Homo sapiens: one gene and its partner. The protein of the gene in region 1 purifies or fractionates together with the protein of each later gene. This does not show direct contact. Each region holds a gene or a part of one and is shown in the gene's direction. Other genes may lie near its edges.

Region 1 (3,500 bases):
CAGTCATCATTGATTTGACAGAGGACTCGAATGAGCAGCCAGACAGTCTTGTGGACCACAATAAACTAAATTCTGAAGCCTCTCCCTCCAGGGAGGCAATAAATGGCCAGCGAGAAGACACTGGGGATCAGCAGGGGTTGTTGAAGGCCATTCAGAACGACAAGTTGGCATTTCCTGGAGAGACCCTTTCAGACATTCCTTGCAAAACAGAGGAGGAGGGTGTTGGCTGTGGAGGTGCAGGGAGGAGAGGCGACTCCCAGGAATGTTCGCCACGGAGCTGCCCGGAGCTGACGAGTGGCCCGAGAATGTGCCCCAGAAAGGAGCAGGACAGTTGGAGTGAAGCTGGGGGCATCCTGTTCAAAGGGAAGGTGCCTATGGTGGTCTTGCAGGACATCTTGGCTGTGAGACCACCGCAAATCAAGTCCCTTCCAGCCACACCCCAAGGCAAGAACATGACCCCTGAGAGTGAGGTGCTGGAATCTTTCCCCGAAGAAGACTCTGTACTCAGCCATTCGTCCCTGAGCTCTCCCTCTTCCACCAGCTCGCCCGAGGGGCCGCCTGCTCCCCCAAAGCAGCACAGCAGTACCAGTCCCTTCCCCACCTCCACGCCCCTCCGCAGAGTGAGTATCTCCCATGGAGTCCCTGCACATCAGTGCTCACGGATCTCAGAGCGCTGTCAGTCTCCACTGGGTCACCCAGGTGTTTTGTGGCAGAGTGAGCGGGGCCACGGGCTGGGTCCTGGGACTCGACGTGGAGTTCTTCCTGGTATCAAAACTCACAGTGTTCAGTTCTGCATTCGTTGTGATGCCCCTGGGACTTAATTCATCAACAGTGTACCTGGTGTACTGTGTGAATAACACCCTGCTGTTTTGCCTTCGTTGTTCACATCTAATCAGTGATAGCTTAGCCGTTTTAGGGAATTAGGATCTGAGCTGGTGCTGTAACCCCTCACTTCAGATTCGAGGTCCAGCTTTCTCTGTGCCCTTCCTGTCTAAGCATAGAAATGTAGGGACGGGGCTGCAAAGACACTGAGCACTGAAGTGGCAGTGAGACGGCAGGAAGCATGACTTGGGGAATTCTGTAGGGTCAGCACAGCCAGCCATCTTAAAAACCTTACCTGGGGCCAGGCACAGTGGCTCATGCCTGTCATCCCAGCACTTTGAGAGGCCGAGGTGGGAGGATCGCTTGAAGATCACTTCAAAACCAACCTGGGCAACATAGACACCATCTCTATGAAAAAAAATTACTTTTTTTTTTTTTTTTGACAGAGTCACTCTATCACCCAGGCTGGAGTTCAGTGGCGTGATCTCGGCTCACTGCAACCTCCACCTCCCAGGTTCAAGCGATTCTCCTGCCTCAGCATCCCTGATAGCTGGGATTACAGGTGCGCACCACCACACTTGGCTAATTTTTATATTTTTAGTAGAGACAGGGTTTCACTATCTTGGCCAGGCTGGTCTTGAATTTCTGACCTCAAGTAATCTGCCCGTCTTGGCCTCCCAAAGTGCTGGAATTATAGGCATGAGCCACTGCACCCAGCCCTGCAAAAAAATTTTTAAAAGTTATCCAGGCATGGTGGCACATGCCTGTAGTCCCAGCCACCTGGGAAACTGAGGCAGGAGGATCACTTGAGCTGAGGAGTTGGAGGCCGCAGCGAGCTATGATCACACTGCCGCGCTCCAGCCTGGGTGACAGAGCGAGACCCCATCTGGAACCATTTTTAAGGACCCCATAAGGGGGACTTTTGCATGGTCTGTCTCTGTTATTGATTTTTTATTAGCACAATGGTGTCCTTAAGGTCTTAGGGACCAAACTGATAAAATCAGTCACGAGTCCCACGGTGTTTAGTGGTGTCTTTTGATTTTATAATTTTTTACTTTTTATCTTAAGTATGTAGAACCAGAAGAGACAGTGCCTTTTTATGTTTTTGGTTTTGTAGCACTTTTGTTTGTTCATGTTGGGTCTTTATATGAGAGTAGTAGATCCTGAGATGGGTCATTTAATCTGTACCTGTAAGCAGGTACAGTAGACCACCTGGACCATAAACCACCAACCTTGTTCGCTTTCGGGATTTTGAGCTCTAAGGAACCATTTATTTATTTATTTTTGAGACAGAGTCTTGCTCTGTCACCCAGGCTGGAGTACAATGGCGCCATCTCAGCTCACTGCAACCTCCGCCTCTTGGGTTCAAGCAATTCTCCTGCCTCACCCTCTCAAGTAGCTGGGATTAGAGGCACCCGCCACCATGCCCAGCTAATTTTTGTATTTTTAGTAGAGACGGGGTTTTGCCATGATGGCCAGACTGATTTCAAACTCCTGACCTCAGGTAATCCACCCGCCTTGGCCTCCCAAGTTTCTGGGATTATAGGCGTGAGCCACTGTGCTTGGCCAAGAGCATTTATTTTTCTGAATGACTTCATTTCTTGTCTTTCACCTGAGAAGATGAAAAAGGAAAAAATGGCTTCCTCTTTAGGTTTATGAAATGTTGTAAAAATGGTGCAAATCTTTTTTTTTTTTTTTTTTTTTGAGACATGGTCTCACCCTGTCGCCCAGGCTGGAGGGCAATGGCATGGTCTCAGCCTACTGCAGCCTCCACCTTCTAGGTTCAAGCGATTTTCCTGCGTCAGCCTCTTGAGTAGCTGGGATTACAGGTGCCCACCACCACGCCTGGCTAATTTTTGTATCTTTTCAGTAGAGACGGGTTTCACCATGTTGGCCAGGCTGGCCTCAAACTTCTGACCTCAGGTGATCCGCTTGCCTCGGCCTCCCAAAGTGCTGGGATTACAGGCATGAGCCACCGCCCCAGTCTTCTACTTTGTTTTATATGTGCTGGTTTGTTATATAGGTAAACTCTTGTCGTGGGGGTTTGTTGTACAGATTATTTTATCACTCAGGTACTAAGCCTAGTACCCTCTTCTAAGTTACTAAATGTGCCAGACTGGCATGTACACATTTCAGCTTCTACCTAATCCACCACTCAATCTCCCAAAATCAGAGTTGAAGTCTCTCCCCATTGGGCATCCTGTAGTGTACATTCGATCACTTGAATTTCTTCCAGGCTGCTGCCGCTTTGCAAAATTTCGTCCTGTGATGTGAGCCATTTAGCAAGAACGGGACACATGGCTGGGCGCGGTGGCTCACACCTGCAATCCCAGCACTTTGGGACGCCGAGGCGGGTGGATCACCTAAGGTCGAGAGTTCAAGACCAGGCTGACCATTATGGAGAAACCCCGTCTCTACTAAAAATACAGAAAATTAGCTGGGTATGGTGACGCTTGCCTGTAATCCCAGCTACGCCGGAGGCTGAGGCGGGAGAACCGCTTGAACCCAGGAGGCAGAGGTTGCGGTGGCCTGAGATCGTGCCATTGCACTCCAGCCTGGGTAACAAGAACAAAACTCCGTCTCAAGAAAAAAAAAAAGGACAGGACACAAGCACATGTTTCCATTAAGTTTGTTTCCATGTCCACAGCTTAGTCTGCAAACTGGGAAGTCCCCTCGTT
Region 2 (3,500 bases), on another chromosome or scaffold:
GCCTGCCTGGTTCAAGTAATTCTTGTGCCCCACCCTCCCAAGTGGCTGGGATTACAGGCATGCACCACCACACCTGGCTAATTTTTGTATTCTTAGTAGATATGGGGTGTCACCATGTTGGCCAGGCTGGTCTTGAACTCCAGGCGTCAAGTGATCCACCCGCCTCGACTTCCCAAAGTACTGATTTATAGGTGTGAGCCACCAAGCCCAGTCAGGAGCACACTTTTTTTTTTTTTTTTTCCTTTGAGACAGAGTCTTGGTCCGTCACCCAGGCTGGAGTGCAGTGGCGCGATCTCAGCTCACTGCATCCTAACCCCGTTTTCCGGATTCAAGCAATTATCGTGCCTCAGCTTCTTGAGTAGCTGGGACTACAGGTGCGCCATGCTGGCTAATTTTTTTTTTGTATTTTTAGTAGACACGGGGTTTCACCATGTTGCTGGGCTGGTCTCAAACTCCTAGCCTGAAGGATCCACCCACCTCGGCCTCCCAAAGTGCTGAGATTACAGGTGTGGGCCACAGAGCCCAGCCCACACTTTTTTTTTTTGGAGACAGAGTCTTGTCCTGTATCCCAGGCTGGAGTGCAGTGGCACAATCTTGGTTCACTGCAGCCTTCACCTCCCAAGTTCAAGGAATTCTCCTGCTTTAGCCTCCTGACTATCTGGGATTACAGGTATGTGCCACCACACCTGGATGATTTTTGTATTTTTACTAGAGTTGGGGTTTCACCATCTTAGCCAGGCTGATCTTGAACTCCTGACCTCAAGTGATCCACCTGCCTTGGCCTCCCAATGTGCTGGGATTACAAGCATGAGCCACTGCGCCCTACCAAGCCCACACTTCTTTTTTTTTTTTTTTTTTTTTTTTGAGACAGAGTTTCACTCTTGATGCCCAGGCTGGAGTGCAGTGGCACGATCTTGGCGCATCGCAACTTCCGCCTCCCAGGTTGAAGCGATTCTCCTTCCTGAGCCTCTGGAGTAGCTGGGATTACAGGCATGCGCCACCACACCCAGCTCATTTTGTATTTTTAGTAGAGATGGGGTCATGTTGGTCAGGCTGGTCTCGAACTCCTGACCTCAGGTAATTCGCCTGCCTCAGCCTCCCATAGTGCTGGGATTACAGGCGTGAGTCACCATGCCGGGCCTAAGCCCACACTTCTTAATACTTAATAGATGAGCAAAGCTATGGAGGAAACATAGGATATGTTCAGGTTGTGGCCAGGTTATAGTCTTTGACAGGAATGTAGATTTTGTGAGGGAAGAAGGGACATAATTAGTCTGGAATAAGAACCGAAGAATATAAGTGTTACACTGACGACTTTGGCCTTTTGTTTTAAATGGGAGGAAACCTTGTAGAAAATATTTCCTATTCAGTCAGCTCCAGCCCAAACTGGTTTATATGTGTCACATTGCCTTTGTTTACAACAGTTCCTGAAGCCAAATTGCCCTACCAGTACACCTTTTCAAATGCTAGTAAAGCCTGGTTTCAAACTCAGCTTTTCAAAATGTTTACTGATGCCCTCGCCAGTTCTTCCTCCAACCTCCTATAGTGCGTTTATGGCTACTTTTTATTGCTTATACTGCTTTTGGTAATTATGTATGCTTGCCATTTCGGACTCTCACTTGAACTTGCATTGTTTACCTTTTTGTAAATTTTTTTCGAGACCTGTCTTCTGTGTCTTTTTTTTTTTTTTTTAATTTTATTTTTGAGACAGAGTCTCGCTCTATTGCCCAGGCTGGAATGCAGTGTCGTGATCTGGCCTCACTGCAACCTCTGCCTCCTGGGTTCAAGCAGTTCTCCCTGCTTTAGCCTCCCAAGTAGTTGGGTAGCTGGGATTACAGGCGCCTGCCATCATGCCCAACTAATTTGTTTCTTTCTTTTCTTTTCTTTTCTTTTTTTTTTTTTTTTTTTGAGACAGAGTTTTGCTCTTGCTGCCCAGGCTGGAGTGCAATGGTGTGATCTCGGCTCACTGCAACCTCTGCCTCCTGGGTTCAAGCGATTCTCCTGCCTCAGCCTCCCGAGTAGCTGGGATTACAGGCATGCGCCACCACGTCCGGCTCATTTTGTATTTTTAGTAGAGACTGGGTTTCTCCATGTTGGTCAGGCTAGTCTTAAACTCCTGACCTCAGGTGATCTGCCGACCTCGGCCTCCCAAAGTGCTGGGATTACAGGCCTGAGCCACCATGCCCGGCCTAATTAATTAATTAATCTTTTAGAGATAGAGTCTCGCAGCTGGGTGCGGTGGCTCACGCCTGCAATCTCAGCACTTTGGGAGTCTGAGGTAAGTGGATCACGAGGTCAGGAGTTCGAGACCAGCCTAGCAAAGATGGTGAAACCTTGTCTCTACTAAAAATAGAAAAATTAGCCAGGTGCAGCGGCGGGCACCTGTAATCCCAGTTACTCAGGAGGCTGAGGCAGGAGAATCCCTTGAACCCGGGAGGTGGAGGTTGTGAGCCAAGATAGCTGCACTCTAGCCTGGGCAACAGAGCAAGACTCCCTCTCAAAAAAAAAAAGAGAGAGAGAGAGAGATGGAGTCTTGCTGTGTTGCCCAGGCTGGTCTGAAACTCATGGCCTTAACCACTCCACAACCCTTGCCTTGGCCTCCTAAACTGCTGGGATTACAGGTGTGAGCCACAGTGCCTCGCTAATTTTATTTTTTTTTTAATAGATAGTATTAAAAGGTAGAAGATCTGGTCGGGCATGGTGGCTCAGTCCTGTAATCCCAGCACTTTGGGAGGGCGAGGCGGGCAGATTACCCGAGGTCAGGAGTTCGAGACCAGCCTGACCAACATGGAGAAACCCCATCTCTACTAAAAATACAAAAGTAGCTGGGCATGGTGGCGCATGCCTGTAATCCCAGCCACTCGGGAGGTTGAGGCAGGAGAATCACTTGAACCTGGGAGGCGAAGGTTGTGGTGAGTCAAGATGGCACCATTGTATTCCAGCCTGGGTGACAAGAGTGAAACTGCATCTCAAAAAAAAAAAAAAAAAAAAAAAAGATCTGGCTGGGCATGGTGGCTCACGCCTGTAACCTGAGTACTTTGAGTGGTCGAGGTGAGTGGATCACCTGAGGTCAGGAGTTCGAGACCAGCCTGGCCAACATGGTGAAACCCCCTCTCTACTAAAAATACAAAAATTAGGCCTGGTGTGGTGGCTCACGCCTGTAATGCCAGCACTTTGGGAGGCTGAGGCTGGTGGATCACCTGAGGTCAGGAGTTTGAGACCAGCCTGGCCAACATGGTAAAACCCCGTCTCTACTAAAAATTCAAAAAATTAGCTGGGCATGGTGGCGCGTGCTTGTAATTCCAGCTATTTGGTGGGGCTGAGACAGGAGAAGCACTTGAACCCTGGAGGCAGAAGTTGCGGTGAGCCAAGATCATGCCCCCGCATTCTAGCCTGGGCAAGAGTGAGACTCTGTCTCAAAAAAAAAAAAAAAAAAAAAAAAAGGGCATGGTGGCGGGCACCTGTAATCCCAGCTACTTGGGAGGCTGAGGCAGGAGAAT

Evidence for each region.
Region 2: the proteins of CHAF1A (region 1) and CBX1 purify together in Homo sapiens (affinity purification with mass spectrometry; 4 studies listed by BioGRID and IntAct, with this or other methods). This does not show direct contact.

Annotation. Positions count from the first base shown.
Region 1 is NC_000019.10:4,409,140-4,412,639, forward strand, and holds part of CHAF1A (chromatin assembly factor 1 subunit A), read left to right. Parts: coding exon 1-620; intron 621-1,365; exon of another isoform or gene 1,366-1,384; intron 1,385-3,500. UniProt on the Homo sapiens protein: Acts as a component of the histone chaperone complex chromatin assembly factor 1 (CAF-1), which assembles histone octamers onto DNA during replication and repair.
Region 2 is NC_000017.11:48,091,479-48,094,978, reverse strand, and holds part of CBX1 (chromobox protein homolog 1), read left to right. Parts: intron 1-3,500. UniProt on the Homo sapiens protein: Component of heterochromatin. Recognizes and binds histone H3 tails methylated at 'Lys-9', leading to epigenetic repression. Interaction with lamin B receptor (LBR) can contribute to the association of the heterochromatin with the inner nuclear membrane.